Regions from separate parts of the Homo sapiens genome. Here regions 2, 3 and 4 are each linked to region 1. Evidence: fine-mapped expression QTL. A gene starts in region 1. Each other region holds a variant in brackets. All regions are shown on one strand. Distances are from middle to middle. Region 1 holds the start of ARMC3 (armadillo repeat containing 3). Region 2 holds the start of LOC105376451 (a long non-coding RNA gene). Region 3 overlaps LOC105376451 (a long non-coding RNA gene). Region 4 has its middle 44 kb from the start of ARMC3.

The links.
Region 2: its variant is fine-mapped to the expression of ARMC3 in whole blood (TOPMed, PIP above 0.99). The same link has a PIP of 0.9 or more in blood mononuclear cells.
Region 3: its variant is fine-mapped to the expression of ARMC3 in whole blood (INTERVAL, PIP 0.99).
Region 4: its variant is fine-mapped to the expression of ARMC3 in whole blood (INTERVAL, PIP above 0.99).

Annotation. Positions count from the first base shown.
Region 1 is chr10:22,923,200-22,931,306 of GRCh38, reverse strand. ARMC3 (armadillo repeat containing 3) reads right to left here and starts at 3,254. Exons shown (of 19, transcript NM_173081.5): 1 at 3,201-3,254.
Region 2 is chr10:22,851,109-22,859,215 of GRCh38, reverse strand. LOC105376451 (a long non-coding RNA gene) reads right to left here and starts at 5,116. Exons shown (of 3, transcript XR_930749.3): 1 at 4,998-5,116. The variant G/C (reference allele first, on the strand shown) is at 3,929.
Region 3 is chr10:22,863,946-22,872,052 of GRCh38, reverse strand. LOC105376451 (a long non-coding RNA gene) reads right to left here. Exons shown (of 3, transcript XR_930749.3): 2 at 7,537-7,644; 3 at 3,829-3,964. Among named protein-coding and RNA genes, the nearest start is that of ARMC3, 60 kb to the left of the region's middle. The variant T/C (reference allele first, on the strand shown) is at 4,704.
Region 4 is chr10:22,880,042-22,888,148 of GRCh38, reverse strand. No RefSeq gene overlaps it. Among named protein-coding and RNA genes, the nearest start is that of ARMC3, 44 kb to the left of the region's middle. The variant G/A (reference allele first, on the strand shown) is at 3,758.

The DNA.
Region 1 (8,107 bases):
GGAAAAAGTGAAAGGAATGGAATTTATACATAGTTAACATACCACAGAGGAGTAACCAGCCTGGGTTCAAAGAACTTTTCAGGCCGGGCAGGTGGCTCACGCCTGTAATCCCAGCTCTTTGGGAGGCCGAGGTGGGCGAATCACGAGGTCAGGAGTTCAAGACCATCCTGGCCAACACAGTGAAATCCTGTCTCTACTAAAAATACAAAAATTAGCCGGGTGTGGTGGCACGTGCCTTGTAGTCCCAGCTACTCAGGAGGCTGAGGCACAAGAATCACTTGAACCCGGGAGGCGGAGGCTGCAGTGAGCCGAGATCGCACCACTGCATTCCAGCCTGGGCAACAGAGTGAGACTGTCTCAAAAAAAAAAAAGAAACTTTTCAAGATGTTAATGTCTATTAGAATAACCCAGGAAATCTATCTAGTTTTCTTCAGTGAGAGTTTGTGGAATTATGTTTGACATCAGGGCCATCTTAAACGGTATATCGTAGGAGCAATCTTAAACGGTATATCATAGCCTTAAGGAAATTACCATAGTCTCAGTAGAAATCCTAGGAAGTAGAAAATCCTTGGGGAGAATCTACAGTGTCAGGGTTAGCTCAAATTGCATGTCAAGGGTCAAAAGCAACTCCTAGCATTAGAGACACTGACCAGAATTTATCACATACATTAAAAAGCCACGTCTTCATAGAAACTCCTAGATACTTCTGAAAGGCATTTATTCTAGGTCTCTAACTTCAGACCACACTACTTTTAAGACTTTGGAGGGCCTGGGCAAGCTTATTCACACAATAGCCAATATATTAAAATGTTAAAATGTGCCTGCATCGCCCATTAAATGTCATTTGCATCATAAAAACTTTTGAAATTTGTATTTGAAATTACTCAGCAATCAGTACATACACCTGGAAATTCTTGTAAAATGAGAAAATTGTTTTCAAATGTAATAAAAATTTATATTAATAAAACATTTAATTAACACTAATTTTTCAGTTCTCTTTTCATATTTTAGAGCCAATATAAGCATTTTTTTCAAATCTCAAACATCTTCCTTAGGTGCTTGAAAAGTGAACAGGCCCTAGACCTTGTGCCTATAATATTTCAGGCAGAGAGGCAGAAACTATTCTGGGCAAATGAGAATCTATCCTACAATTAATCTCTAGGAAAAAAAAAAGAGAGAGTTTATAGCACTCTATAACCAATTCCAAGACAGAGCAGCCTTTGATTTATAAAATAATTGCTTATGAATAATATTCAGGAAGCAATTTAATTACACCTGCATAAAGTTGTTTTAAATCATCTGATTTTCACTTAGGAACTAATTTTTCCTACTTCAGGATAGTGTTTTTGAGCAATTGCATAGTGCAGAGGTTAGAAGAGCTTACACAGACAGTATTGCAATGATAGAGTGTCTCCTAAGCTAAAGAATGAAGTTAAAAGCCTATGTGTTTTATCATGGCCCGGCGTGGTGGCTCACTCCTGTAATCCCAGCACTTTGGGAGGCTGAGGCGGGTGGATCACCTGAGGTCAGGAGCTCAAGACCAGCCTGGACAACATGGCAAAACTCTGTCTCTACTAAAAATACAAAAATTAGCCTGGAGTGGCGGTGGCATGTGCCTGCATTCCCAGCTACTGGGGAGGCTGAGGCAGGAGAATTGCTTGAGGCCGGGAGGCGGAGGTTGCAATAAGCTGAGATCACCCCATTGCACTCCAGCCTGGGTGACAGAGCGAGACTCTGTCTCCTCCCCCAAAAAAAGCCTATGTGTTTTATCACCATATTGGGTATGATAGTTAATGGAGGAGAGACTGAACAGCTGACATAGGTCGGTGGCAATGAGCTATGGAGATGATCCTTACAAGGGTAATACATTTCACTGTGGAGAATTTGGAAAACAAGGGCACAACGAATAAAATAAAAATCACCCAAAGATAAGCTCAGAGAGATCAATACTATTTCTTTTCTTTTCCTTTCCTTTCCTTTCCTTTCCTTTCTTTTTCTTTTTCTTTCTCTTTCTCTCTCTCTTTCTCTCTCTCTCTCTCCCTCTCTCTCTCTCTTCTCTTTTTTTCTTTTTCTTTTTCTTTTTTGAGACAGAGTCTCACTCTGTTGCCCAGGCTGGAGAGTGGCCTGATCTTGGCTCATTGCAACCTCCACCTCCCAGGTTTAAGAGATTCTCCTGCCTCAGCCTCCTGAGTAGCTGGGATTACAGGTACCCGCCACCACGCTCGGCTAATTTTTGTATTTTCAGTAGAGACAGGTTTCCCCACATTGACCAGGTTGGTCTCGAACTCCTGACTTCAGGCGATCCACCCGCCTCAGCCTCCCAAAGTGCTGGGGTTGTAGGCGTGAGCCACCGTACCTGGCTTTGTGTGTTTTTCTAAAGTGATTTTAACATCCTGCCTCAACTTCTATCCCCTACTTTCACCTTCCCTTCCTGGGTTCATATTCCTACTAAATTCTTATATTAACAAATAAATTCATGAAGTCTCAGTTTCCCTTCATTGCTTTAATAATCTCCAGTGGATTAGCATAACATGCCATTACAAATATTTTAAAATCCCTTAGCTATCTAGCCAGTCTCTGATTGTTGAAATTTGTTTCTAATTTTCTGGAAATATGGACAGGGCTGAAAGAACGTCCTTGGACATAAAATTTTCATCCATTATCCCCAACTATTTCTTTAGGATAAATCTCTAGCAGTAAATTAACTGGGTGAAAACTTCAGGGCATTGGATATGCAAACAACTCTGCTCTAAAAATGCATCTTCTTGACTACTGGAGCCATTTTTTTTTTCACGAGTTGATTGGTCCTTTGTATTTGTTCTTCGTGAACGTTCAGCCTATGATTTTAAATATTTTCTAATGAGTTCTGCTTTGAGAAGATTTAAAGAGGAGGAGGGCTCAAGAAATCGAGGCCACTTCTGAGTTGCTCACAGTCAAGTAACGGAATCTGACTTGATCTCACCTCAGATCCCCTCTCGGGCCTCAGTTTTGTCACCTGTTGAATGGGAGGTGGCGGGATGCTTACGAAACCCACCCCAAGCCCCGTCTAACCCTGCGGGCGCGAGGCAGAAACTAACAACGCCCAGCAAGGTGTTGCCTCACTGACCCAAGCAGTCTGCGCCCACGTGGCACCTTCTCCTTTCCCAGGTTTTCCTCAGGCCTCTGCCTTGGGCCTCCCCACCCCACGGGGTTACCTTTACCTGCCGGGAGATCCCGCCGAGTAGCTAGCTGCTCCGCAAACCCAGCAGACGAACCCCCAGTCCCTTGTTGTGCCTCGTTGCTAGGCGACGCCACGCCGCGCCGCGCCTGCGCCCTGGGAACGCTCGGGGCTGCTAGGGCGCCCATTGTCCCGCCGAGGGCAGCGGCCAGTGCGGGAGGAGCCAAGTGCGTCCGCGATTACCTGAATCCAGTGCTTTAGGGGAGAATGGAAACTGGGGGTGGAAGCTGTAAATCAAGAGGCAGTTCAGCCTCAGTTTCTGGCCCAAGGACTGGCTGTGGGTTCAAATACGCAAATACTATTGCATTCTTCCAAATAGAGGCGTCAGCCGGAATCTCTATGCAGATGAAACCCACATCAGCCACCTCCTGCCCAGGCTCCGTTAAGCTGCAGACCTGCACTGCCACATCTCTTTGCACTAGGATGTCCAATCCGTTTCCACAGAACTTCTCATGGCCCTTCAAAGCCCCGTTCTCTTCCTCTTTCTTTCCTCTTCCTGCCATTCTTCCAATTGCCTAGACTCAGAAGGAGCTTCAATTTCCCTTCTTCCTCCCATGCCCCCCAACCACAGTCATCACTTCAGCCACTTCTTGGCGGCTTACATTTTGTTTCCTGCTTGTTCCCTTTCTCATATCCTTATTGTCACTTCAATCCAGCTCGTCATTTTTTGGCCTTCTGGCTGAGAAATTCAGTTGCTCTCTGCTTACAGTTCTTTCTACGTATCACAGGCAAATCGGCCATCCAGAAATCATCGTTCCAGTCTTGTCACTTCCCTACTCAAATGTCAGCGGCTTCCTAAGATAAATTTTCAACACATTGGCCTGGAATTTAAGACCGTCTGCTCCATCTCTACTCCATCTGTGCAACCACATTTTCAACCGATCTCCACCATCCAAGCTCCAGCCAAACTTACTGTTCCCGAAATTTTCCACACTTTTCTCTAGATTTTCTTGCTTATCTGTTCATCACTTCATTTTTCAACAAATATTTATAAAGTAGCTTCTATTTCCCAGGTCATGTGCAATACCTGAAATATTCTCTCATTTCCACTTAATTAAGCCCAGCTCAAATGCCATCTTCATAAAATATTTTTTGATTGCCTTTAGCAAAAAGTCTCTCCCTCTCCTCTTAGACTTTGCAAATTCCGTCTCCTACCGGCCCCTGTTGGTCTCCCAGTCCTAAGAATGATAGATGCTTCTTATAATTGCTACTTTTATATATCTTATGTTCTCTTCTCACCATTTAAATTGCCTGATAAACAGCTTTATAACAATTATTTGTATTCAGTTTTCCATGGTCAAATATCCGGTGTGACTTCTGTATAGAAAAGATCTTAAGTAATGGTCATGAAAGTAGGAAAAGGATTAAGACCAAGTAGCATCAAGGAAACTAAGGAGGGAGTTTCAAGAATATAAGCGTCATCAAGTGTTATATGATTGGACCTTGAATAATATACACCTGTATTTTCAGCCTCTCCCTGTCTTCCACGTTTTTTCCTGTTGGTATATAATTATGTTGAAGCCCCTCCCATGCCTCATCTAAAAAGCAAAAACAAATAAAATCCCTTTGATGTTGTTGTTCCTTCTAACTATTATCCTATTGTTTTCTTTCTCTTCTTGGTCATGACTTTTCAAAAAAAGTAGCCAGCATTAGATACTTACATATTTTTAACTTCCTATTCACTCTTCAGACTATAGTGACCTGTTTTCATCCCAGCACTAAAACTATCCATATCCATTGGATGCTTCTTAGCCCTCATCTTGCTTGACATTGCTGCTGTATATAATACTCAATGACACCTCATTCTTGAAACTCTTTTCTTGGTTTCCTTGGTACTACTTGCTCTTGATCTTCCTCCTACTTTCTTTTATGACCATCATTTAAGATCTTTTCTATACAACAGGGTCTATCTATGTTGCCCAGGCTTGTCTTGAATTCCTGGCCTCAAGGAATCCTCCTGACTCAGCCTCCTGAGTAGCTGGGATTTTATAGGGATATATGCCCTATTGTGGTTTTTTTACAGAATCTTAAATGTTGAAATTTCCCAGGGATCTGTCCCTTGTTCTCTTTTCACACTATATGCTTTTCTAGGTGATCTTATTTATATTTGTGACTTCAACTATTGCACATATGTAGCTCCTCATCAGACTCCGGTACTGAACTCTAGACCCATATATCCTACTTGCTACACAGTTCCACCTGGATACCCACAGGCACTTCAGTCATCAACACTACCCACCTAAACTCATCATTTTCCCAGTATAGACATGTTTTTCCATTTATCTAGGGGTACCAACAGGTGTTCTACCCAAACAGACCACCAAGTCTGACAGGCATCCTAGACTTATTCTCCTTTTCATGCAGTTAATTATTGGATTCCCCTAAAAGTTTCTTGAATTTATTCTCACCTTCCAATTCCCATAGCCCAAGTACAGAAAGTCACTGTCCTTTACCTGAATTCATCTAACAAGCCTTCTGGCAGGTCTTCCATCCTCTAGACTCATCCTAGCTTCAATTCATCTTCTCCAAGACAATCAAAGTAATCATTCTAAGATGCAAATTTAATTTGTCTGTGTCCTTGCTGGCTCCAATAGCTCTAACACACAAATGATGAAATGCAACAAGATTCTTAAATTGACACTCAAGATCTTTCTTGTTCTGACTGACTGCTTCCTACTACAATAGCTTCTGTCATTGTTCAAAAATATAGCAAACTGCTCAGCATTCTCCAAGTACACCATGACATTTTGAGCCCTTCACTCCCCTAATCAGCCTGAAAACCACTTATTCATCTTTCAAATTTTAACTTAGTCATCATTTCCTCCAAAAAGTCTTTATTAGCTTCTTCAGACAGAGGGAAGCATTTCTCATTCGTTGCTATAGCTGTACCTTACACTTGCTCTATTTGTTATTTTCACATGATACTGTAATGTATTTGTTGACATGTATGTCTCCCCACCTAGGCTGTTTCTAAATGTTCTTCAAGTAACTAAAGCTTTTTTAATACTCACTATGAGACTGGCAATTATGAAGTGGTTAAAGTGCACAATTAAATCCACACCGTAATCCTGTGAGGTCTGAATGAAGTACAGGGTGATTAGCAGAAGGTCACTCTACTAGTAAATGGTAAAGACAGGACTTGAACTAAGGTCAGCTTGACTTTTATATCCATGTTCTGCACCAATATATCATACCAGCCCATCCTGAAATTATAGTGTTATAACAAGTTGTGATTTATTTTATTTTATTTTATTATACTTTAAGTTCTGCACAATGTGCAGGTTTGTTACATTTGTATACATGTGCCATGTTGGTGTGCTGCACCCATTAACTCGTCATTTACATTACGTATATCTCCTAATGCTATCCCTCTCCCCTCCCCCCACCCCATGACAGGCCCCAGTGTGTGATGTTCCCTTGTGATGTGTTTTTATGAAATAATTAAAACTACTGCTTTAATTCTTGTTTTATAGACTTAGTCTTTGCTGAGTATGTCAAATTTGGGCGGGAGATCATGTTTATTTTAACATATACAGTTGGATGGGTTTGGACAAGGGTTTGCAGTTGTGTAACCATCACCCCAGGGAAGTTTCAGAGACCATCTCCATCATCCCAAATTTCCCTCATGCCCCTTTGAAGTCAAATCTCTCCCTCTAACTCACTTCCCTGGGAACAACTGCTCTGCTTTCTCTCCCTATCATTTTGGCTTTTCTAGAATGTCTTATAAACAGAACCATGCAATATGCTGTATTTTGTGTCTGGCTTCTTTAATTTAGCATAGTTTAGGAGATTTGTCCATGGTGTTGCATTTATCCATAGCTTATCTCACTTTATGGCTGAGTGGTATTGCACTGCATAGATGTACAACATCCATTTACTGATTGATGGACATTCTGGTACTTTCCAGTTTGGGACTGTTATAAATAAATATGGTTAAATATACAGGGTGTTGTGTGAACGTGTTTCTCTCTTCTTGGGAAAATACCCAGGAGTGGAATTTCTGGGTCTTATGTCATGTGTATGTATAATGTTATAACAACCTGCCAAATTGCTTTCCAAAGGAACTATACTGTATTTGCATTCCCACCAGCAAAAATGAGAGATGCCATTGCTTCATGTGTTCTACAGCACTTGATGTTGTCAGTCCTTTTAATTTTAGCCATTTTAGTGGGAGTATAATGGTATCTCCCTCTGGGTTTAATTTGCATTTCCTTCATGACTAGTGATGATGATCCCATTCTATGTGATCACTAGCCATTTCTGTACCTTCTTTTGTGAAATGCCTGTTAAAATATTTTTCCTACTTTTAATTGGGTTGTTTGTGTTCTTGAGTTGTAAGAGTTCCCTGTATAGTGATGATAATCCCATTCTATGTGATCATTAGCCATTTCTGTACCTTCTTTTGTGAAATGCCTGTTCAAATATTTCTCCTACTTTTAATTGGGTTGTTTGTGTTCTTGAGTTGTAAGAGTTCCCTGTATATCCTGGATACAGGTCATTTGTCAGATATACATTTTGGACATATTTTCTGACAGTGTGTGGCTTATCATTTTGTTTCTTAAAAATATATTTTGTACACCGGAAGCTTTCAGTTTTGATGAAGTCCAATTCATTCATTGTTTCAAAGGTTAGCCTTGTTTTGTTTTATTTCATTTTGCTTTTGCCCTGCCTAAGAAATCTTTGCCTAGTCCAAAGGGAAGAAAATAGACTTCCTTTTATGTTTTGTTTTAGAAGTCTTCCAGTTTTGATTCTTATATTTGGGTCTATGATCCATGTCACATTAGTTGCTGTATATGGTATGAGATGGTTTGAGAATCACAATTTTGCATATGAATGTCCAAATGTTCTAGTACCACTTGAAGAAAACACTATTTGTGTATTGAATTACTT
Region 2 (8,107 bases), 72 kb after region 1:
GTTGAATTTTGTCAAAGGCCTTTTCGGCATCTATTGAGATAATCATGTGTTTTTTGTCTTTGGTTCTGTTTATATGCTGGATTACATTTATTGATTTGTGTATGTTGAACCAGCCTTGCATCCCAAGGATGAAGCCAACTTGATCATGGTGGATAAGCTTTTTGATATGCTGCTGGATTCGGTTTGCCAGTATTTTATTGAGGATTTTTGCATCAGTGTTCATCAAGGATATTGGTCTAAAATTCTCTTTTTTGGTGCTGTCGCTGCCAGGCTTTGGTATCAGGATGATGCTGGCCTCATAAAATGAGTTAGGGAGGATTCCCTCTTTTTCTATTGATTGGAATAGTTTCAGAAGGAATGGTACCAGCTCCTCCTTATACCTCTGGTAGAATTCGGCTGTGAATCCATCTGGTCCTGGATTTTTTTTGGTTGGCAGGCTATTAATTATTGCCTCAATTTCAGATCCTGTTATTGGTCTATTCAGAGATTCAACTTCTTCCTGGTTTAGTCTTGGGAGAGTCTATGTGTCGAGGAATTTATCCATTTCTTCTAGATTTTCTAGTTTATTTGCGTAGAGGTGTTTGTAGTATTCTCTGATGGTAGTTTGTATTTCTGTGGGATCGGTGGTGATATCCCCTTTATCATTTTTTATTGCATCTATTTGATTCTTCTCTCTTTTCTTCTTTATTAGTCTTGCTAGCGGTCTATCAATTTTGCTGATCTTTTCAAAAAACCAGCTCCTGGATTCATTAATTTTTTGTAGGGTTTCTTGTGTCTTTATTTCCTTCAGTTCTGCTCTGATCTTAGTTATTTCTTGCCTTCTGCTAGCTTTTGAATGTGTTTGCTCTTGCTTCTCTAGTTCTTTTAATTGTGACGTTAGGGTGTCAATTTTTGATCTTTCCTGCTTTCTCTTGTGGGCATTTAGTGCTATAAATTTCCCTCTACACACTGCTTTGAATGTGTCCCAGAGATTCTGGTATGTTTTGTCTTTGTTCTCATTGGTTTCAAAGAACATCTTTATTTCTGCCTTCATTTCGTTATGTACCCAGTAGTCATTCAGGAGCAGGTTGTTCAGTTTCCATGTAGTTGAGTGGTTTTGAGTGAGTTTCTTAGTCCTGAGTTCTAGTTTGATTGCACTGTGGTCTGAGAGACAGTTTGTTATAATTTGTGTTCTTTTACATTTGCTGAGGAGTGCTTTACTTCCAACTATGTGGTCAATTTTGGAATAGGTGTGGTGTGGTGCTGAAAAGAATGTATATTCTGTTGATTTGGGGTGGAGAGTTCTGTAGATGTCTATTAGGTCCGCTTGGTGCAGAGCTGAGTTCAATTCCTGGATATCCTTGTTAACTTTCTGTCTCGTTGATCTGTCTAATGTTGACAGTGGGGTGTTAAAGTCTACCATTATTATTGTGTGGGAGTCTAAGTCTCTTTGTAGGTCACTCAGGACTTGCTTTATGAATCTGGGTGCTCCTGTATTGGGTGCATATATATTTAGGATAGTTAGCTCTTCTTGTTGAATTGATCCCTTTACCATTATGTAATGGCCTTCTTTGCCTCTTTTGATCTTTGTTGGTTTAAAGTCTGTTTTATCAGAGACTAGGATTGCAACCCCTGCCTTTTTTTGTTTTCCATTTGCTTGGTAGATCTTCCTCCATCCCTTTATTTTGAGCCTATGTGTGTCTCTGCACGTGAGATGGGATTCCTGAATACAGCGCACTGATGGGTCTTGACTCTTTATCCAATTTGCCAGTCTGTGTCTCTAGATTTCAAATTGGTTATTTTTCATCTTATTATTATTTAAATCAATTAAAGTTTTGAATTAGAAGAGAATTCGATTAAAATTAAATTACTTTGCCAAAACAGTAAATCAACTTGGGACTAAACTTTCTTAAATTGCATGTGTTCTTTCATTGTTCACTCAGTCAACTTTTTTTTTTTTTTTTTTTTTTTTTTCAGATGGAGCCTGGCTCTGTCGCCCAGGCTGGAGTGCAGTGGTGCAATCTCAGCTCACTGCAACCTCCACCTCCTGGTTTCAAGCGAGTCTTCTGTCTCAGCCTCTCCAGTAGCTAGGATTACAAGTGTATGCCCCCACGCCCAGCTAGTTTCTGTATTTTTAGTAGAGGGGGGTTTTCACCATGTTGGCCAGACTGGCCTCAAACTGCTGACCTCAAATGATATGCCCACCCCACCTTCCCAAAGTGCTGGCATTGCAGGCATGAGCCACTGCACCCAGCCAAATTTTTTCTTTTCTTTTTTTTTTTTTTTTGAGACAAGGTCTCACTCTGTTACTCAGGCTGGAGTTCAGTGGCACAATCATAGCTCACTGCAGCCTCCTCCTCCTAGGCTCAAGTGATCCTCCCACCTCAGACTCCCACACAGTGGGGACTACAGGTGTGTACCAAGCTTGGCTCATTTTTTTTTTTTTTTTTTCCTTCAAAAAACAATGTCCTACTCTCTTGCCCAAGCTGGTCTGGCTCTCCTGGGCCCAGGCGATTCTCCTGCCTGGCCTCCCAAAGCATTGAGATGAGATGGCACACATGAGCCGCTGTGACCAATCTTTATTGAGCACTGACTGTTTTAAGACATTAGGTAAAATACTGTGAGTGAAATAGAGATAGATTAGCAACCATCAGGAACTTCCCTCTGCAGGTTTGTAGTTTCATAGAGAAAACAAGATTTAGATGCAAATGCTTGTAACAACATTTACAGAGAAATCATGTAGACCAGAGGAAAGGAAGAAAGATGAAGCATCAGCCATTGGAACTTGGACAGGAAGGGATTAGTCCTGGCTTGAGGGAGGATTTGTAGCTGCCTCTGTGCATCCTTTCCTGCATTTTCTGACTTTGCGTTCATTCTTTCTTTCACTATTTAATGATACTCTTACCCTCTGGAATGGTTGAGTTAAAAATTACGACCAGGCAGGTGCAATGGTGCTCCTGTAGTACCAGCTACTCCAAAGGCTGGGGCAGGAGAATTGCTGGAGGCCACAAGTTCAAGACCAGCCTGGGCAACATAGCGAGACCCTGTCTTGACACCAAATTTAAAAATTTGCTGGACATGGCAGCACATGCCTGCAGTCCCAGCTGTTTGGGAGGCTGAGGCGGGAGGATCACCTGGGCCAAGGAGTTCAAGGCAGCAGTGACCTGTGATCATTCCACTGCACTCCAACCTGGGCAACAGAACAAGGTCCTGTCTATTTAAAAAAAAAAAAAAGGATAGACATTTCACCGGCTCTTGCAGTACAAAACAGACATAGTCTCTGGGATATATAATATATAAAAGAACCAAAAAAATAATAATAGTACGGGTGCTGATTTTGGATCTAAAAGATTAAGTTCTTGTTGTCTGTGTGTTAATTTAGAAATAGTCCTCCTCAACATTAACATCTACAGACGTTTGACCTAAGGTTTGAAATATTAGGGAATTTATTCTCTTTTTTTTTTTCCTCTGTTGCCCAGGCTGGAGTGCAGTGGCATGATCTCAGCTCACTGCAACCTCTGCCTCCTGGGTTCAAGCAATTTTCCTGCCTCAGCCTCCCAAGTAGTTGGGACTATAGGCACACACCACCATGCCCAGCTAATTTTTGTATTTTTAGTACGGACGAGGGTTCACTATGTTGGCCAGGCTGGTCTTGAACTCCTGACCTGAAGTGAATCAGCCACCTTGGCCTCCCAAAGTGCTGGGATTATAGGTGTGAGCCACTGCACCCAGCTGATTCTCTTAACTGATAAAGGCCAAAAGGAACAAGGATCGACACTGACCAAGGCCTGACCTCCACAGAAGTGCTCCCAGCACAGGGAGGCCGCAGGAGTAGCAGAGAAAAATTCAGGCTGAAATGTTTGCAAACAGACATCCCCAAACACAGCGTTGGCATGAAGGAAACTCAGAGCACATTAGTCACTGCTTCAATGGAGGAGTGGGAAGACCA[G/C]CCTCAGCCCGCTGGTGAAGAGCAAAGTTTAAAATAACCCTACTAAATTAGAACAGTGGTCAGGATGCTTTTTAAAGTTTGCTGAAGATAAATGCAGGGTAGGAGTCCCTCCAGGAGAGGGAAGTGAAGTATACAAATAGAAGATAAGATGTGACTGGCTACAGGGAAGGATGTCTTAAAACGAGCCAGCAATGAAAATAGATAAGCTGGAGTCAGTCATAACAGCAGCTTTTTAAAGACTGAACAGTGCCAGGATGTAAAACCAAGTCCCCAGAGGAACCATGAGATCACCCTCCCATTATACATGGTACTAGTCAAACTTTTCTAGGAGCAGGGTGTCCATTCCTGAGTTCTAGAATTAAGGGGCATGGAGAACTTGGAGAACATTCTATCCCTAAAGTCAACCAGGATTAGAAAATGGGACTTCTGCAAAAAAGTAAGGGCTCGAGATTGTTCATTATGAAGAGAAAGCCAAGAGTTGATTAAATTGGCATCTTTAATTGGCAAGATTGTGTATGTGTGTAAATATGTGTGTATGTATGTATATATGTGTATTTAAATTCAGCTATTTTTTTCACCAGGGTACAATCTTTTTAGCTATAATATAAATATTTGGGGTTACATGTTAAGAGAATTGTCTAAAAATAGAGTTCAAACCCCAGTTTGAACAAACTCTGCTCTAAATTGAAAGCCATTTGCTTAGGGGTCAGAGGCCTCCTGGAGGGCCTGATCTTCTTGGTCTGATTTGACTTTATATTGGTAGGGATTACTGCCTAACGATTTATTTTTCTTCATTCCATTATTATTTTTCAGGCATCTTTCTTCTTCCTGGTCTACAGTTTGTTATAGTGTCCTCCCTTATCTACAGCTTTACTTTTTGTGGTTTCAGTTACCCGAGGTCAACCACAGTCCAAAAATATTAAACAGAAAATTCCAGAAAGAAACAAATTATAAGTTTTAAACTGGGTAGCATTCTGAGAAGGGTGATAAAATCTTGAATTGTCCCGCCCCATCCCACCTGGGACATGAATCATCCCTTTGTCCAGTGGATCCACATTGTACTACCCACCCATTAGTCATCAATAGCATCTGCTCCTGACATTCAGTCACTGCCATCAATTATGGTTCGATGATCCAGGTTCACCTGAAGCAGATGGTCCTCCTAATCGTCAGAAAGTCAATAGTAGCCCAACCCTACGTCACAATGTCTGTATCATTTACCTCACTGCATCTCATCACAAAGGCATTGTGGTATCCCACATCATCACAAGAAGGGTGAGCACAGAACAGTAAAATATTTGGAGAGAGAGACCACATTCCCACAACTTTTACTGCAGTATATTTTTAGAATCATTCTATCTTATTATGAGTTACTGTTATTAATCTCTTACTGTGCCTACTTTATCAATTAAACTGTATCATAGGTATGTAGGTATAGGAAAAAACAATATCTATAGGATCTGGTACCATCCATGGTTTCAGGCATCCAATGGGGGTCTTGGAACACATCTCATGAGGATAAGAGGGGACTACCATATTCTCCTGTCTGTGTTTGTAACAAGAATGCTGCACTTCTAGGCACCGAGTTGCCTCCCAACCCCTTCCCCTCTGCCATCAGAGAAACTCTCCCACCTCCTCTGCTCTTCCTGAGCTTCCTTCATGCATCTTGCGTCAGCCGAAAGCTGTCTCTTCTCAGAAGACACTCCTTCCAATTGCCCGGGAATGCCTTTCTCTCTCACATGCACCCTATTATGGAGGTGGGCTGCCATCGTCTTTGCTCCTTGTTCCACTTGCATCCACTACTATTGTTCCCTCTTGCAAAAATTCTTGCTTTTTTGGACTTCGTGGTTTTCAGCTCAACCACTCCTTCCTGTTATTTTCTTCTAGCCAATTCCTGGTCACTCCCTTCCCAGCCATTTGTCAAAGTCTTAGCATGTGGACTCAAAGTCCCACCATCCTGCCCAATAAATTCAACAAACACATGGCGTTCCGCTGTACCAAATGGCCTCTGATTCCTCAAGTTCTCATCTGCAATAGCTCTTCCACTCCACTCAAATCATCCATCCTAGTGCACACACATTGGGTCTTCCTGTCACTCCCCAGTCCCCCACTTGCAGAGTCACTGAAGCAAATGTCCTCTGAGCATCACTACTTCCCCTTGCCCTGGCTGACTCAGCTCCTTCCACTGAGGCCATTCCTCAGCCCCATCAGGATTTCAGGCTTGCAGCTCCATCCTCAGTCTCTCAGTGCCTTGACCTTGTCCCGTCTGCACATCCTCCTCATCTGGCAGATGCCAAGGGTTCAGCAAGTTGATAGCCCTTTTGCCAATACTCTATATTCCCTTGCCCTTTGAGCTTTTTTTGTTTGTTTCCCTCTTCTGGCAAACTCTCACCCCTAATGAATCCAGCTATTTGCATTCCAACCCCCAGCAGCTGAACTCTTCTGAAGAAAGGCACGCAATGGAGCAGACTGGCTTTATTGTAAATGCATAAAAATGAATCTCAGGGCCGAGTGCGGTGGCTTATGCCTGTAATCCCAGAACTTTGAGAGGCTGAGGTGGGCTGATCACTTGAGGTCAGGAGTTTGAGACCAGCCTGGCCAACATGGTGAAACCCTGTCTCTATTAAAAATACAAAAATTAGATGGGCATGCTGGTGCAGCATGCCTGTAATCCCAGCTACTCAGGAGGCTGAGGCAGGAGAATCGCTTGAACTTGGGAGGCATTAGTTGCAGTGAGCCCAGATTGCACTACTGCACTCCAGCCTGGGCAACAGAGTGAGACCCTGTCTCAAAAAAAAAAAAAAAAATGAATCTCAGATGGACCCTCTTACTACATATTTTGATTAACTCACTCTCCTACTTTCCATCAAAACTTCTACAGAGCTTCTCCCCTCCTTTGGTGACAGCCACTCTCACACCACATGCACACACAAACACACGCATCTGCCCCTTCTTCCTCAAACTCAGCAGAAACTTTGCCATCTACAACACAAAGAACATTGAAGCTGTAACAGAAGGACTCTGGGATTGTTCAGAACACTCTTTGCCAGGCTCTGGTGGTGCAGGACTTTTTTGTCTTGCCCTCATCTCTCTGGCTACCCCATTTCCTTTGTACAAACCTGGCCATTAAATATCCACCATGTTATGCCAGAACTTTTCCTCACTCCACGTGCTTTTCTTAGGCATTCTTAGCAATGACAAACTTGCACAGATGACTCACAAATGCATATCTCTAGACCAGACATTCCATCGGCGCCTCCGACCCATCTGTCCACCTGTCAACCTGTCATCTCCATGCAGACATCACAAAGGCACAGCAAAAGTTCCTACCTAAATCACGCATCTTCCCACCTTCCAATCCATGCTCTTCTTCTACCTCTCTTATTTCAGCACAAGATACTACCATCTTTCCTGTTCTACAAGCCAGGTATCTAGGCATCATCCATAACCTCCCTGTCTCTCTCACCCACTATTGATTCTAACACCTTGTCCTGCTCATTTTACCTCCTAAATACCTCTCAAATCCATCTCCACACTAACCCAGGCAACCATCAGTCCCAGCCTGTATAATGTCAGTTGCTTCTTCCTGCCACAGCTTAGACCACCACACTACTCATCCTGTAACCATACTTTACCCTTCTCCTCCACTCAGAAGCCAGAGTGATCTTTTAGAAACATAATTCTGAGAACGCAGCTCTTCTGCTAAAACTATTCAACAGCTTCCATTGCTCTAAGAATAAAGAGAAAATTCTTTATCCTGCTATTTCCTGAGATAGATGCCCTTGGTGGCCGTTTAGGTCATGCTTCTTCATGCCACAGGACCTGTCTCGTGTTGTTCCCTCTATTTGGAAATGTCAGTTTTCTAGCAAAGACTTCTCTTGTGGCTCTGATTGTCAAATTGTTGCCACGCAATCAATGGGCTTGCTGCCTGATGCACACAGAGGCCAATATGATGGCACCAGCTTTTGAGAAAAGAAAAGCTTTATTGTCATTTAACTCACAAGGAGACAGGAGGAAATGCTCAAGTTTGTCTCCTGGAGCTAGGTGCTGAGGCAGGTTTTATAAGCATAGGGTAATGAGGTGTGATCTGATTGGATCTCACAATGAGGTGATGCCAGGAGGCATGAGCTGATTGGATCCTGCCATGAGGTGATGACCGCACTCAATCTGGTTGGATCC
Region 3 (8,107 bases), 59 kb after region 1:
GGGTTAAATAAAACCCATCTGAAGAGATTTTACGGTTTGTAGGGCATGACTCCCCAGACCTCTTAGACAAGAATTTGGGCAAAATGAAAAAACTCAGAGCTTAGTCCTCCCATGGCAAGCAAATACACTAAGACACTAGGTTGCAGCAGAGAAAGAGGTTTAATCATAAGGCAGACAAATGAAAGAGATGGGGGGAAACCTCAAATCTGCCTCCCGGAGGAGTCTAGGGATAGGGATTTTAAGAGGCTTGGACAAGTAGCGGGCTGAGGTGTAGAGATGGTTGTTAGGTTGAAGAGTGTAGGATGAAGTCACAAGATAGATGAAGAAACTGTATTCTCATGTTGATTCCGTTCCTCTGTGGGGTTCTTCAAACTGGTTGGCACCACCCATTTTGCTGGAATTCAGGATCTGAAAAACATCTTAAGCAATTCTGCAACAAAATCCTTAGGATTCTAATGTCAGAGAGTCTAGCTATAGAAACAATGAGAATTTAGTATCTAGTATCAGTGAGAACGCAAATGGTCAGTATCTAGTGAGATGTGGCTAGTCCAAATTGAGGTGTGCTGTAAGCCTGATATGCACACTAGATTTATGTTTATTAAGCAGCTACAAGAAAGTGGGGCAGAGTGCAGTCTGAGGAATGTTTAATTGTAAGTATTATATTTCTGTCCAGAACCTGGCATGCAATTCTTGTTAACTCTATGAGGGTGATTTCACATAGGCAGAAAATGTGCACCAAGAGAAGCTCTGGTACAACTTTATCTACCACGTTTGCTCAAACTCAGCAACACTTTAGAGCGTTACCAGGGAGTAAAGGCTACCATTGGGCAGAAGGTAGGTGGAAGACCCAGAGAAAGTAAAACTTCAAAGTATTTTTCAGGTTTGGATTATAATCCTGGAAGACACAATGCCAAAAGCCATAATGCTTAATGTGTAAATCCCAAAAGATCAAAATCCCTAAAGTATACATTAATTCTCTAACATATAAAATCCTGAAAATAAGTCCAGGCGCCATGGCTCATGCCTATAATCCCAGCACTTTGGGAGGCTGAGGTGGGAGTATTGCTTGAGCCCAGGAGCTTGAGACAAGCCTGGGCCACATAAACCCCACCTCTACAAAAAAATACAAAAATAGCCAGGTGTGGTGGTACGTGCCTGCAGTTCCAGCTACTCTGGAGGGTGAAGGAGGGAGGATGGCTTGAGGCTGGGAGGTAGAAGTGGAGTGAACTGTAATCACGCTACTGCACTCCTGCCTGGGTAACAGAGCAAGATCCTGTCTCCAAAAAATTAATTAATTAGATAAAACCCTGAAAATCACAGTCACAAGATGGTTGCATTATGTTAGGCGGAATAGGGAATGCTCATTTCCATGTATATCAAATAATGGAAGAATTTCAAAAAGAGCAACACCACATAGAAAATCAACGTGGGCCAGGCGTGGTGGCTCACGCCTGTAATCCCAGCACTTTGGGAGGCCAAGGCAGGCGGATCATGAGGTCAGGAGATCAAGACCATCCTGGCTAACATGGTGAAACCCCGTCTCTACTAAAAATACAAAAAATTAGCCAGGCATGATAGCGGGCGCCTGTAGTCCCAGCTACTCGGGAGGCTGAGGCAGGAGAATGGTGTGAACCTGGGAGGTGGAGTTTGCAGTGAGCCGAGATAGTGCCACTGTACTCCAGCCCAGGTGAGCGAGACTCCCTCTCAAAAAAAAAAAAAAGAAAATCAATGCGAACATACTCACCAAGGAAAGCCATGCCCAATTAAATAAAAAAAAAAACAAAAAACTACTCATTGCGATGCAAGACTTCAAAATACAATGAATGATTGTGATAATCAGCCAGCTCTATGAACTACCTATGTGCAATTGCCCATGGTCTATCCCTATGATACACTTTTCCATATGTCAGATTTTCTTTTCAGTTTGTTTTTGTTTTTTAATTTTTTATATAGTTACTGTTTTTTTTTTAACTAAAATATGGGAATTGGAAAGCTTTAATCCCTTGACTCATCTAGTGTTGCCAGCCCATTTCCCTGCTGAGCTGTGAGACTGCATAATATCACAGTTTGTCATGGCGTTCAGATATGTCAGGGGTTCAATCCTATCCTGTGAGATAGAACAAATGATGGAACAGGGAATACTCAGCCTACCCTCAACACCAAAGGATGTGGCTCTCTTCAGAATAAGGTGTGATGAAATAGTCACTGTATTAGGGTTCTCTAGAGGGACAGAACTAATAGGATAGATGTATATATGAAGGGGAGTTTATTAGGAGAATTGACTCATGCGATCACAAGGTGAAGTCCCACAATAAGCCATCTGCAAGATGAGGAGCAGGGAAGCCAGTCCAAGTCCCAAAACCTCAGAAGTAGGAACGCTGACAGTGCAACCTTCAGTCTGTGGCCGAAGGCCCGAGAGCCCCTGGCAAACCACTGGTGTAAGTCCAAGAGTCCAGAAGCTGATGAACTTGGAGTCTGATGTTCGAAGCCGGGAAGCATCCAGCACAGGAGAAAGATGGAGGCCAGAAGACTCAGCAAGTCAAGTCCTTCCATATTCTTCTGCCTGCTTTATCCTAGCTGTGCTGGCAGGTGATTAAATGGTACCCACCCAGACTGAGAGTGGGTCTGCCTCTCCCAGTCCACTGACTCAAATGTTAATCTCCTTTGGAGACACCCTCATAGCCACTCCCAAGACCAATACTTTGCATCCTTCAATCCAATCAAGTTGACACTCAATTTTAACCATCACAGTCACTAAGCTATGCAGAGACTGGGTTTTTTTTAGCCAATATCATTTTCTATCTTTAACCACTTAAATAGCTATGTGGCAGACCCACCCTTGTGATGTCGTTCATCTTTCGGGTGCTTGAAAATATCCAAGACACTTTTGCCCTCAAAGAAAGGCACCCCACAAGGAAGGACAGGGCAGAAAGAGAGAGAAAGAGGGAGCCATTGCAGTCACAGCAGGAACGAGGCATTCTGCTTCCTGGGGGAGCCATGCTGATCTGTGCTGCTGTTGCACAGCTCTCTGCGGAGGAAGGGCCTTGAAGTCATGGACTCTCCCCTCCTAGGAGAAGGCTTCTGAAGGGAATGGCAGGGAGGTGTGCGATTTCATCTCTAGCTTGGCAAAGTGTGCTTTCCTGCATTCATGCTTAACTCCCTCTCACCCTTTTTTTTTTTTTTTTGAAATGTTTCACTCTTTTTGCCCAGGCTGGAGTGCAATGGCAGGATCTCAGCTCACTGCAACTTATGCCTCCTAGGTTCAAGTGATTCTCCTGCCTCAGCCTCCCAAATGGCTGGGATTACAGATGCCCACCACCACACCCAGCTAATTTTGTATTTTTAGTAGAGACAGCGTTTCACCATGTTGGCCAGGCTGGTCTCGAACTCCTGACCTCAGGTGATCCACCAAAGTGCCTCCCAAAGTGCTGGGATTACAGGCATGAGCCACCGCATGCCGGCCTCTCACCCTTTCTGCAGCTCTGGAAAGACGCTACATCTATAAACCTGAGTTTCTTTTCCAAAATTTTTTTTTAGAAAAATATATGAAATGCTTGGATGTTTGCTCCATCTCTCACCCTCCTAGCCATGCACTGTACTTATAGAGTGTATGTTGTATACCCAGTTCTTCTTTGGCCAAGAGAAAACTTTGCTTGATCAAAAATGATCACAGCTTTGCAACATCCCATAGAAGTTGATATAACTGAGAGTTATTTTCTCATTCTTACTCCACTCATATTTAATGACCACATGGAGAAAGAAAGCAGATTCAGAAGGTATTTGAATTACATCACCCTATATTCGAAACTAAATGAGAGCCAAGAGAAATACACACACATCCAGTTTATTAAGTAGTCAGGGATGTCCTTCTCTTTCAACTTGCCTTTCCCGGCGTGGCCCCTTGAGGGTTTCTTCAATTTGTGAAGATCCATAATGCAGATTCATGACCAGGATTGGAACTGCCCTGAAAACCAAAGCACTGGCTTTCAATGTGCACCAATTACTTTCACACCAACCTAATGTATAAGTGAGTCTGCTTTATAGAGTGGGAGGCAAGAAAAGCAAGGTCTTGATATTTGTGATATCAAAAGAAAATGTAATGGGAACACAAGGGAGCCTCTGTTAATGTTCCATCTCATGATCTGGGGTCTAGTTAAGCAGCTATGTTCTTCGTGAAAACTCATCAAAATGCACTTATTATTTATGCATTATTCTGTATATTTTTATGCATCAGTAAAAGGTTCACATTTTAAAAATCCATCATCTGGCTGGGCGCGGTGGCTCACACCTGTAATACCAGCACTTTGGGAGGCTGAGGTGGGTGGATCACTTCAGGTTGGGAGTTCAAGACCAGTCTGGCCAACATGGTGAAACCCCGTCTCTACTAAAAATACAAAAATTAGCTGGGCTTGGTGGCAGGTGCCTGTAGTCCAAGCTACTCAGGAGGCTGAGGCAGGAGAATGGCTTAAACCTAGGAGGCAGAGGTTACAGTGAGCTGAGATTACGCTACTGTACTCCAGCCTGGGTGACAGAGCAAGACTCCGTCTCAAAAAACAAAACAAAACAAAACAAAAAATCCATCATCTAATTTGTCTAACAAAAGTCTAAGAAGCAGATTGTGTCCAATCCAATTGGTGTTATCCAATATGGTACCCACCAACCACATGTAGCTATTGAGTACTTGAGATGTGGCTAATCCAAAC[T/C]GAGGTGTGCTATAAGCATAACATGCACACTAGATTTTAAAGACAGAGTATGAACAAATGTAAAATATTTTATTAATAATTTTTATATAGATTATATGTTGAAACCATATAGTACAGATATATTGGGTTAAATCAAATACATTTTTTAAATTTCAATTGTTTCTTTTTGCCTTTGTTAATGTGGCTGCTAGGAAATTAGAAATTATGTATGTGGCTCTCATTATCTTCTTTTGAACAGCATGGTCCTAATGTCTCTAACTCTCCCACTAGACTGGGTGTGAAGTTAGTTACTGTAGATCCTGGCCTCACACACTCACACCTGATGGATATTTTCAATTCCTATAGCAATATCACAGAATATTTTATATTCTAGGGGGAAAAAGAATAATTACCAATCTTGATTTGTAAAGTTGGCTTAAATATATACACATTATACGTGACTTTTTTTTTTAATTAACTGTGAATAGTGTAAAATGTTTTCAAGTTGAAAATAGTAAAAGTAACACTTCTAAAATGAACAAATCTAGCCAGGCACAGTAGCTCATGCCTGTAATCCCAGTACTTTGGGAGGTCAAGACAGGAAGATCACTTAAGCTCAGGAGTTCGAGACCAGCCTGGGCAACACAGTAAGACTCTATCTTTGCAAAATAAAAATTAGCCAGGAGTAGTCCTAGCTACTTGGGAGGCTAAGGCGAGGGGATCACTTGAGCCCAGAAGTTCAAGGTTACGGTGGGCTATGATTACGCCACTGCATTCCAGCCTGGGTGACAGAGCAAGACGCTATCTCTAAAAAAGATAAAAATAAAAAAATAAAAATAATGGGCAAATCTGAAAAGTTTCAATTCAGTCAGTCATGAGTGCAGAACCACCACGGCAAAGGGAAAGAACCTTTCTTGGGTTTAGAGTCTTCCCCTTTGTCTAATATTTCTGCTTTCTGTTGTGTACTTTTCCGTAATTTGTATTCAAGCTGTGAAAAACATTCTTCCATCAGCAGAATCTGGCACTATAGCAGGCTCTTCAGAAAGAAGGGTGGGCATTTTTAAAATTCACTCTGGATTTGTTAAGTGGTTTACAGCTGAGAAGCCAGAGGAGCTGACTTTTCACTGTATAAATTTTGAAAGAGCACAAAGGCAAGTATCTCTTTAAGAATTATGATATTCTGTGGGCCATATCATAGGCACATTATTAAAATATGCGCTCTTTTGACTATTATAGGAATCTAAAATTTGCTAATTATGTAATAGCACACTAACAAAAGCATAATCATAGATACACAGTATTTGATGTATATCCCAGTTATTGGCAAACCTTGAAACTAGTTACATACTATTTCTAGAAAAATCAAAATTTGTCCCAAAAGTGTTAGACTCAAGTCAAGACTAGAAGTGCTTAAGTAGGCTTAGGAAAATTACCATTTCTTCCATGACAGTCACCGGGGAAACATCTATCAATGGAAGTTTAAGAAAATTGGGCACAGTAAGCAAGAGTGAAGGACGAATCACAGCAATTGCCTTTAAGCATTCTCCCATTTGCAGAGATTCTAATCCTCACTCTAAAATGAATTATTTCACTGCAAGGGGTTTGCAGTGAGAGCATTTTGTTTTTGTTTTTGCTTTTTTAGAGACAAGGTCTCACTCTGTCGCCCAGGCTGGAGTGCAGTGGTACAATCTTAGCTTACTGCAACCTCGAACTCCTGGGCATAAGCATTTCTCTCGCCTCAGTCTCCTGAGTAGTTAGGACTATTCCTGACTAATTTCTTTTTTTTTTTTTATTTTGTAGAGACAGGGTCTTGTTATATTGCCCAGGCTGGTCTCATACTCCTGGCCTCAAGTGATCCTCCTGCCTTGGCCTCTCAAAATTTTTGTTCTTTTTATATGTAACACTAACCATTTTACATTCAACAGTCATTGGAAATACTCAAAGATTCAACATTTATAGGACAAACATTCTTTGAAAGTAGCAACACTGTCTAACAAATTTTAGTTGATATTCAACTTAACTATAATATTCAGAACAAAAAGACTGGGGAAGATAAGAGATGGAGGAAAGAAATGAGACTGTCAAATCAGGGAGAGAGGAGGAATGAAAATGAATGGTACATTTTCTGGAAGTCATGAAAGTCATCAACCCGAGTTTAATATTTGATCTGAATGGTAAAGGAAGATGGTACTGGTGATATCAGAAGGGAATTCTAGTTCATTTACATCTCACAAAACACATCAACAACCTAATCTAGAAGATGAGCTACCATACTTATATCAAGATATTTCCAGTATGTGAATCATAGGATTCCTCCTTTTCTACTTGTAAAGCCCATCTGAATTCTTTGGAAATTTCTCTGATTACAGGAAACAGCAGATAGACTGATGAAATACCTATAGTTACATAATGCTAACTAGTTAATTTTTAGAGCCTCTTAGGTTGAGAATTTAAAGTCTATTTTTCTTGTATCAACCCAAAAGGCATCTGTTCCAGGCATTTGTTAGCTAGCCCCTCAGCATACATTAGGTTAATTTTATGTATCAACTTGACTGGGCCACCGGGTGCCCAGACATTTGGTCAAACATTATTCTGGGTGTGTCTGTGAACGTGTTTCCAGATGAGATTAGCATTTGAATTGGTAGACCTAGCAAAGCAGTATATCCTCCCTAATGCGAGTGGACCCCATCCAATCAATTGAAGACTGAACAAAACAAAGAGGCTGAGTAAGAGAGGGCTCCTCCTGCCTGACTGCTTGAGTTGGAACATGGGTCTTTTTCTCGCCTTCAGACTCAAACTGAAACATCAGCTCTTCTTGAGTTTCAAGCCAGCTGGCTTTCAGACTGGAACTTACTCTATCAGCTCTCCTGGTTCTCAGGCCTTTGGACTTGCACCAAGACTATGCCATCAGCTCTCCCTGGTCTCCAGCTTGCCAAGTACAGATCTTGGAACTTCTTTGCCTCTGTAATCATGTAAGTCAATTTCTTACAATAGATCTGTATATGTAAATGTGTATATTTATATACATATTGTACTTTTACATGTATGTGACACCTATGAATGGATGGCTTCTTTTGGACTCATCATATGTAGCTCTAGCTCTGTCCTGGGGAGAGGAAATTTGTAGGAAAGATCTTTTCATTTCTCCAGTTACTTCATTTCTCTCATGTAGATGGGCTTTGCTGCCCATAGACAGGACGGACTTGTTGCCCCTGCCCATCATTGTCAGAGGGGAACAGGAATGCACCTTCCCCAACTATCCCACCTCACAGTATCTGCTCTGAAGCAAATACATACAGGAATCCATGAAAGTTTATGCAGTTCTTGACTGAAGGGGTTTGAGTGCCTACAGATTTAGGATGTGCTGGGGCAAGTGAACAAGTTCATTTTTTTTTCATTTACATCATTTTGTCTTTATTTCTTGC
Region 4 (8,107 bases), 43 kb after region 1:
GTAGGTCACTCAGGACTTGCTTTATGAATCTGGGTGCTCCTGTATTGGGTGCATATATATTTAGGATGGTTAGCTCTTCTTGTTGAATTGATCCCTTCACCATTATGTAATGGCTTTCTTTGTCTCTTTTGATCTTTGTTAGTTTAAAGTTTTTTATCAGAGACTAGGATAGCAACCCCTGCCTTTTTTTGTTTTCTATTTGCTTGGTAGATCTTCCTCCATCCCTTTATTTTGAGCCTATGTGTGTCTCTGCACGTGAGATAGGTTTCCTGAATACAGCACACTGAGGGATCTTGACTCTTGACTCTTTATCCAATTTGCCAGTCTGTGTCTTTTAATTGGAGCATTTAGCCCATTTACATTTAAGGTTAATATTGTTATGTGTGAATTTGAGCCTGTCATTATGATGTTAGCTGGTTATTTTGCCCGTTAATTGATGCAGTTTCTTCCTAGCCTCGATGGTCTTTACAATTTAACATGTTTTTGCAGTGGCTGGTACCAGTTGTTCCTTTCCATGTTTAGTGCTTCCTTCAGGAGCTCTTTTTAGGGCAAGTCTGGTGGTGACAAAATCTCTCAGCATTTGTTTGTCTGTAAAGGATTTTATTTCTCCTTCACTTATGAAGGTTAGTTTGGCTGGATATGAAATTCTGGGTTGAAAATTCTTTAAGAATGTTGAATATTGGCCCCCACTCTCTTCTGGCTTGTAGAGTTTCTGCCGAGAGATCCGCTGTTAGTCTGATGGGCTTCCCTTTGTGGATAACGCGACCTTTCTGGCTGCTCTTAACATTTTTTCCTTCATTTCAACTTTGGTGAATCTGACAATTATGTGTCTTGGAGCTGCTCTTCTCAAGGAGTATCTTTGTGGCAGTCTCTGTATTTTGTGAATTTGAATGTTGGCCTGCCTTGCTAGATTGGGGAAGTTCTCCTGGATAATATCCTGCAGAATGTTTTCCAACTTGGTTCCATTCTCCCTATCACTTTCAGGTACACTAATCAGATGTAGATTTGGTCTTTTCACATAATCTCATGTTTTTTGGAGGCTTTGTTTGTTTCTTTTCATTCTTTTTTCTCTAAACTTCTCTTCTCACTTCATTTCATTCATTTGATCTTCCATGACTGACACCCTTTCTTCCAGTTGATCAAATCCACTACTAAGGCTTGTGCATTCATCACATAGTTCTCCTGCCATGGTTTTCAGCTCCATCAGGTCCTTTAAGGACTTCTCTGCATTGGTTATTCTAGTTAGCCATTCATCTAATCTTTTTCCAGGTTTTTAACTTCTTTGTGATGGTTCGAACTTCCTCCTTTAGCTTGGAGTAATTTGATTGTCTGAAGCCTTCTCTCAACTTGTTAAAGTCATTCTCCATCCAGCTTTGTTCCATTGCTGGTGAGGAGCTGCGTTCCTTTGGAGGAGGAGAGGCGCTCTGATTTTTAGAGTTTCCAGTTTTTCTTCTCTGTTTTTTCCCCATCTTTGTGGTTTTATCTACCTTTGGTCTTTGATGATGGTGACGTACAGATGGGGTTTTGGTGTCGATGTCCTTTCTGTTTGTTAGTTTTCCTTCTAACATTCAGGACCCTCAGCTGCAGGTCTGTTGGAGTTTGCTGGAGGTCCACACCAGACCCTGTTTTCCTGTGTATCAGCAGCGGAGGCTGCAGAGCAGCAGATACTGGTGAACAGCAAATGTTGCTGCCTGATTGTTCCTCTGGAAGTTTTGTCTTAGAAGAGTACCCGGCCGTGTGAGGTGTCAGTCTGCCCCTACTCGGGGGTGCCTCCCAGTTAGGCTACTCGGGGGTCAGGGACCCACTTGAGGAGGTAGTTTGTCCATTCTCAGATCTCAAGCTGTGTGCTGGGAGAACCACTACTCTCTTCAAAGCTGTGAGACAGGGACATTTAAGTCTGCAGAGGTTTCTGCTGCCTTTTGTTTGGCTATGCCCTGCCCCCAGTGGTGGAGTCTACAGAGGCAGGCACGCCTCCTTGAGCTGCGGTGGGCTCCACCCAGTTTGCGCTTCCTGGCCGCTTTGTTTACCTACTCAAGCCTTGGCAATGGTGGGCACCCCTCTTCCAGTCTTGCTGCCACCTTGCAGTTCGATCTCAGACTGCTGTGCTAGTAATGAGCAAGGCTCCGTAGGCATAGGACACTCCAAGCCATGCATGGGATATAATCTCCTGGTGTGCTGTTTGCTAAGACTGTCGTAAAAGTGCAGTGTTAGGGTGGGAGTGACCCGACTTTCCAGGTGCCATCCATCACCCCTTTCCTTGGCTAGGAAAGGGAATTCCCCAACCTCTTGCGCTTCCCTGGTGAGGTGATGCCTCACCCTGCTTTGGCTCAGGCTCGGTGCACTGCACCCATTGTCCTGCACCCCCTGTCCAACAATCCCCAGTGAGATGCACCCTGTACCTCAGTTGGAAATGCAGAAATCATTCGTCTTCTGCGTTGTTCACACTGGGAGCTGTAGACTGGAGCTGTTCCTATTCTGCCATCTTGGCTCCCACCAAATTTTTTTAAATCTTTTTATTTAAGTTCTAGGGTACATGTGCACAATGTGCAGGTTTGTTATGTAGGTATACATGTGCCATGTTGGTTTGCTGTACCCATCAACTCATCATTTACACTAGGCATTTCTCCCAATACGATCCCTCCCCCAGCCCCCTACCCCCGAGAGGCCCCGGTGTGTGATGTTCCCCACCCTGTGTCCACGTGTTCTCACTGTTCAACTCCCACCTATGAGTGAGAACATGCAGTGTTTAGTTTTCTGTCCTTGTGATAGTTTGTTGAGAATGATGGTTTCCAGCTTCATCCATGTCCCTGTAAAGGATATGAACTCATCCTTTTTTATGGCTGCATAATATTCCATGGTGTATATGTGCCACATTTTCTTAATCCAGTCTATCATTGATGGACATTTGGGTTGGTTCCAAGTCTGTGCTATTGTGAATACTGTCACAATAAACATATGTGTGCATGTGTCTTTATAGTAGCATGATTTATAATCCTTTGGGTATATACCCAGTAATGGGATGGTTGGGAAAAATGGTATTTCTAGTTCTAGATCCTTGAGGAATCGCCACACTGTCTTCCACAATGGTTGAACTAGTTTACACTCCCACCAACAGTGTAAAAGCATTTTAATTTACACTCCCAACAGTGTAAAAGTGTTCCTTTTTCTCCACATCCTCCCTAGCATCTGTTGTTTCCTGACTTTTTAATGATCACCATTCTAACTGGTGTGAGATGGTATCTCATTGTGGTTTTGATTTGCATTTCTCTGATGACCAGTGAGGATGAACATTTTTTCACGTGTCTGTTGGCTGCATAAATGTCTTCTTTTGAGAAGTGTCTGTCCATATCCTTTGCCCACTTTTTAATGGTTCTTAATGGGGTTGTTTGATTTTTTCTTGTAAATTTGTTGGAGTTCATTGTAGATTCTGGATATTAGCCCTTTGTCATATGGGTAGATTGCAAAAATTTTCTCCCATTCTGTAGGTTGCCTGTTCATTCTGATGGTAGTTTCTTTTGTTGTGCAGAAGCTCTTTAGTTTAATGAGATCCCATTTGTCAATTTGGGGTTTTGTTGCCATTGCTTTTGGTGTTTTAGTCATGAAGTCTTTGTCCATGCCTATGTCCTCAATTGTATTGCCTAGCGTTTTTTCTAGGGTTTTTATGGTTTTAGGACTTACATTTAAGACTTTAATTCATCTTGAGTTGATTTTTGTATAAAGTGAAAGGAAGGGATCCAGTTTCAGCTTTCTACATATG[G/A]CTAGCCAGTTTTCCCAGCACTATTTATTAAATAGGGAATCCTTTCCCCATTTCTTGTTTTTATCAGGTTTGTCAAAGATCAGATAGTTGTAGATGTGTGGTGTTATCTGTGAGGCCTCTGTTCTGTTCCATTGGTCTGTATCTCTGTTTTGGTACCAGTACCATGCTCCTTTGGTTACTGTTGCCTTGTAGTGCAGTTTAAAGACAGGTAGTTTGATGTCTCCAGCTTTATTCCTTTAGCTTAGGAATGTCTTGGCCATGCAGGCTCTTTTTTGGTTCCATATGAACTTTAAAGTAGTTTTTTCCAATTCTGTGAAGAAAGTCATTGGTAGCTCGATGGGGATGGCATTGAATCTATAAATTACCTTGGGCAGTATGGCCAGTTTCATGATATTGATTCTTCCTATCCATGAGCATGGAATGTTCTTCCATTTGTTTGTGTTCTGTCTTATTTCATTGAGCAGTGGTTTGTAGTTCTCCTTGAAGAGGTCCGTCACATCCCTTGTAAGTTGGATTCCTAGGTATTTTATTCTCTTTGAAGCAATTGTGAATGGGAGTTCACTCATGATTTGGCTCTCTGTTTGTCTGTTATTGGTGTATAGGAATGGTTGCGATTTTTGCACATTGATTTTGTATCCTGAGACTTTGCTGAAGTTGCTTATCAGCTTAAGGAGATTTTGGGCTGAGACAATGAGGTTTTTTAGATATACAATCATGTCATCTGCAAACAGGGACAATTTGACTTCCTCTTTTCCTCATTGAATACCCTTTATTTCTTTCTCCTGCCTGATTGCCCTGGCCAGAACTTCCAACACTATGTTGAATAGGAGTGGTGAGAGAGGGCATCCCTGTCTTGTGCCAGTTTTCAAAGGGAATGCTTCCAGTTTTTGCCCATTCAGTATGATATTGGCTGCGGGTTTGTCATAAATAGCTGTTATTATTTTGAGATACTTCCCATCAATACCTAATTTATTGAGAGTTTTTAGCATGAAGGCTGTTGAATTTTGTCAAAGGTCTTTTCTGCATCTATTGAGATAATCATGTGGTTTTTGTCTTTGGTACTGTTTATATGATGGATTACATTTATTGATTTGCATATGTTGAACCAGTCTTGCATCCCAGGGATGAAGCCCACTTGATCGTGGTGGATAAGACTTTTGTTGTGCTGCTGGATTTGGTTTGCCAGTATTTTATTGAGGATTTTGGCATTGATGTTCATCAGGGATATTGATCTAAAATTCTCTTTTTCTTTTTTTTGTTGTGTCTCTGCCAGGTTTTGATATCAAAATGATACTGGCCTCATAAAATGAATTAAGAAGGATTTCCTCTTTTTCTGTTGATTGGAATAGTTTCAGAAGAAATGGTACCAGCTCCTCTTTGTACCTCTGGTAGAATTTGGCTGTGAATCCATCTGGTCCTGGACTTTTTTTGGTTGGTAGGCTATTAATTATTGCACTTGAGATGGGTCTCCTGAATATAGCACACTGACGGGTCTTGACTCTTTATCCAATTTGCCATTCTGTGTCTTTTAATTGGGGCATTTAGCCCATTTACATTTAAGGTTAATATTGTTATGTGTGAATTTGAGCCTGTCATTATGATGTTAGCTGGTTATTTTGCCTGTTAATTGATGCAGTTTCTTCCTAGCCTCGATGGTCTTTACAATTTGGCAGTGGCTTTACAATTTACAGTTTTTGCAGTGGCTGGTACCGGTTATTCCTTTCCATGTTTAGTGCTTCCTTCAGGAGCTCTTTTAGGGCAGGCCTGGTGGTGACAGAATCTCTCAGCATTTGCTTGTCTGTAAAGAATTTTATTTCTCCTTCACTTATGAAGGTTAGTTTGGCTGGATATGAAATTCTGGGTTGGAAATTCTTTTCTTTAAGAGTGTTGAATATTGGCCCCCACTCTCTTTTGGCTTGTAGGGTTTCTGTTGAGAGATCTGCTGTTCGTCTGATGGGCTTCCCTTTGTGGGTAACCCGACCTTTTTCTCTGTCTGCCCTTAACATTTTTTCCTTCATTTCAACTTTGGTGAATCTGACAATTATGTGTCTTGGAGTTGCTCTTCTCGAGGAGTATTTTTGTGGCATTCTCTGTATTTCTTGAATATGAATGTTGGCCTGCCTTGCTATGTTGGGGAAGTTCTCCTGGATAATATCCTGAAGCGTGTTTTCTAACTTGATTCCATTCTCCCCATCACTTTCAGGTACACCAATCAAATGTAGATTTGGTCTTTTCACAGAGTCCCATATTTCTTGGAGGCTTTGTTCATTTCTTTTTACTCTTTTTCTCTAATCTTGTCTTCTCACTTTATTTCATTAATTTAATCTTCAGTCACTGATATCCTTTCCTTCACTTAATTGAATTGACTATTGAAGCTTGTGCATGCGTCACAAAGTTGTCGTGCCATGGTTTTCAGCTACATCCGGTCATTTAAGGTCTTGTCTACACTATTTATTCTAGTTAGCCATTCATCTAACCTTTTTTCAAGGTTTTTAGCTTCCTTTCAATGGGTTAGAACATGCTCCTTTAGCTCAGAGAAGTTTGTTATTAATGACCTTCTGAAGCCTACTTCTGTCAACTTGTCAAAGTCATTCTCCATCCAATTTTGTTCTGTTGCTGGCAAGCAGCTGCAATCCTTTGGAGGAGAAGAGGCACTCTGGTTTCTGGAATTTTCAGCTTTTCTGCTCTGGTTTCTCCTGATCTTTCTGGTTTTATCTACCTTTGGTCTTTGAAGTTGGTGACCTACAGATGGGGTTTTGGTGTGGATGTCCTTTATGTTGATGTTGATGGTATTCCTTTCTGTTTGTTAGTTTTCCTTCTAACAGTTGGGCCCCTCAGCTGCATGTCTGTTAGAGTTTGCTTGAGGTCCTCTCCAGACCCTTTTTGCCTGGGTATCACCAGCGGAGGCTGCAGAAGAGCAAATATTGCAGAACGGCAAATATTGCTGCCTGATACTTCCTCTGGAAGCTTCGTCCCAGACGGGCACCCACCTTTATGAGGTGTCTGTCGACCCCTACTGGGAGGTGTCTCCCAGCCAAACTACACAGAGGTCAGGGACCCACTTGAGGAGGCAGTCTGTCTGTTCTCAGAGCTCAAATACTATGCTGGGAGAACTACTGCTGTCTTCAGAGCTGTCAGACAGGGATGTTTAAGTCTGCGGAAGTTGTCTGCTGCCTTTTGTTCAGCTATGCCTTGGCCACGGAGGTGAGGTCTATAGAGGCAGTAGGCCTTGCTGAGCTGTGGTGGGCTCCACCCAGTTTGAGCTTCCCAGCTGCTTTGTTTACCTACTCAAGTCTCAGCAATGTTGGACGCCCCTCCCCTCACCAGGCTGCAGCCTCACAGGTTGATCTCAGACTGCTGTGCTAGCAGTGAGCAAGGCCCCCTGGGCATGGGACCTGCCAAGCCAGGCATGGGAGGGTATCTCCTGGTCTTCTGGTTGCTAAGACCATGAGGAAAGCACAGTATTTGGGCAGAGGTGTACTGTTTTCCCAGGTACAGTCTGTCACGGCTTCCCTTGGCTAGGAAAGAAATCCCCTGACCCCTTGCACTTCCGGGGTAAGGTGACACCCTGCCCTGCTTTGGCTCACCCTCTGTGGGCTGCACCAACTGTCCAGCCAGTCCCAGTGAGATGAACCAGGTACCTCAATCGGAAGTGCAGAAATCACCCATCTTCTGTGTTGATCTTGTTGGGAGCTGCAGACCAGAGCTGTTCCTATTCAGCCATCTTAATCATGGCTTGTCTCAATAAATTTTTAAAAATCAAAATCATATCAAGTGCCTTCTCAGACCACAGTAGTAAAAAACCAGAAATCAAACTCCAAAAGGAAAACTCAAAATTATGCAAATACATGGAAATTAGTCAATCTGCTCCCAGATGACTTTTGGGTTAACAATGAAATCAAGATGGAAATTTTAAAGTTATTCAAAATGAATGATAATGGTGACACAAGTTATCAAAACTTCTGAGATACAGCATAAAGCAGTGCTGTGAGGAAAGCTAACAGCACTAAATACCTACATTAAAAAGTCTGAAAAATCACAAATTGACAACCTAACATTACATCTCAAGTAAACAGAGAAACAAGAACAAACCCAAAGCTATAAGAAGAAAAAAAATAAGGTCAGAGGAGAACTAAATGAAATTGAAACAAAAATACAAAAGATCAATGAAATAAAAAGTCGTTTATATAAAAAGATAAAGTCAGTAGACCATTAACTAGATTAACTAAGAAAAGAAGAGAGAAGATTCAAATTAGCTCAGTTAGAAATGAAAATGGAGGCATTACAACTGACATCGCAGATATGCAAAAGTTAAGTTTACACTACTATGAACACCTCTATGCACATAAA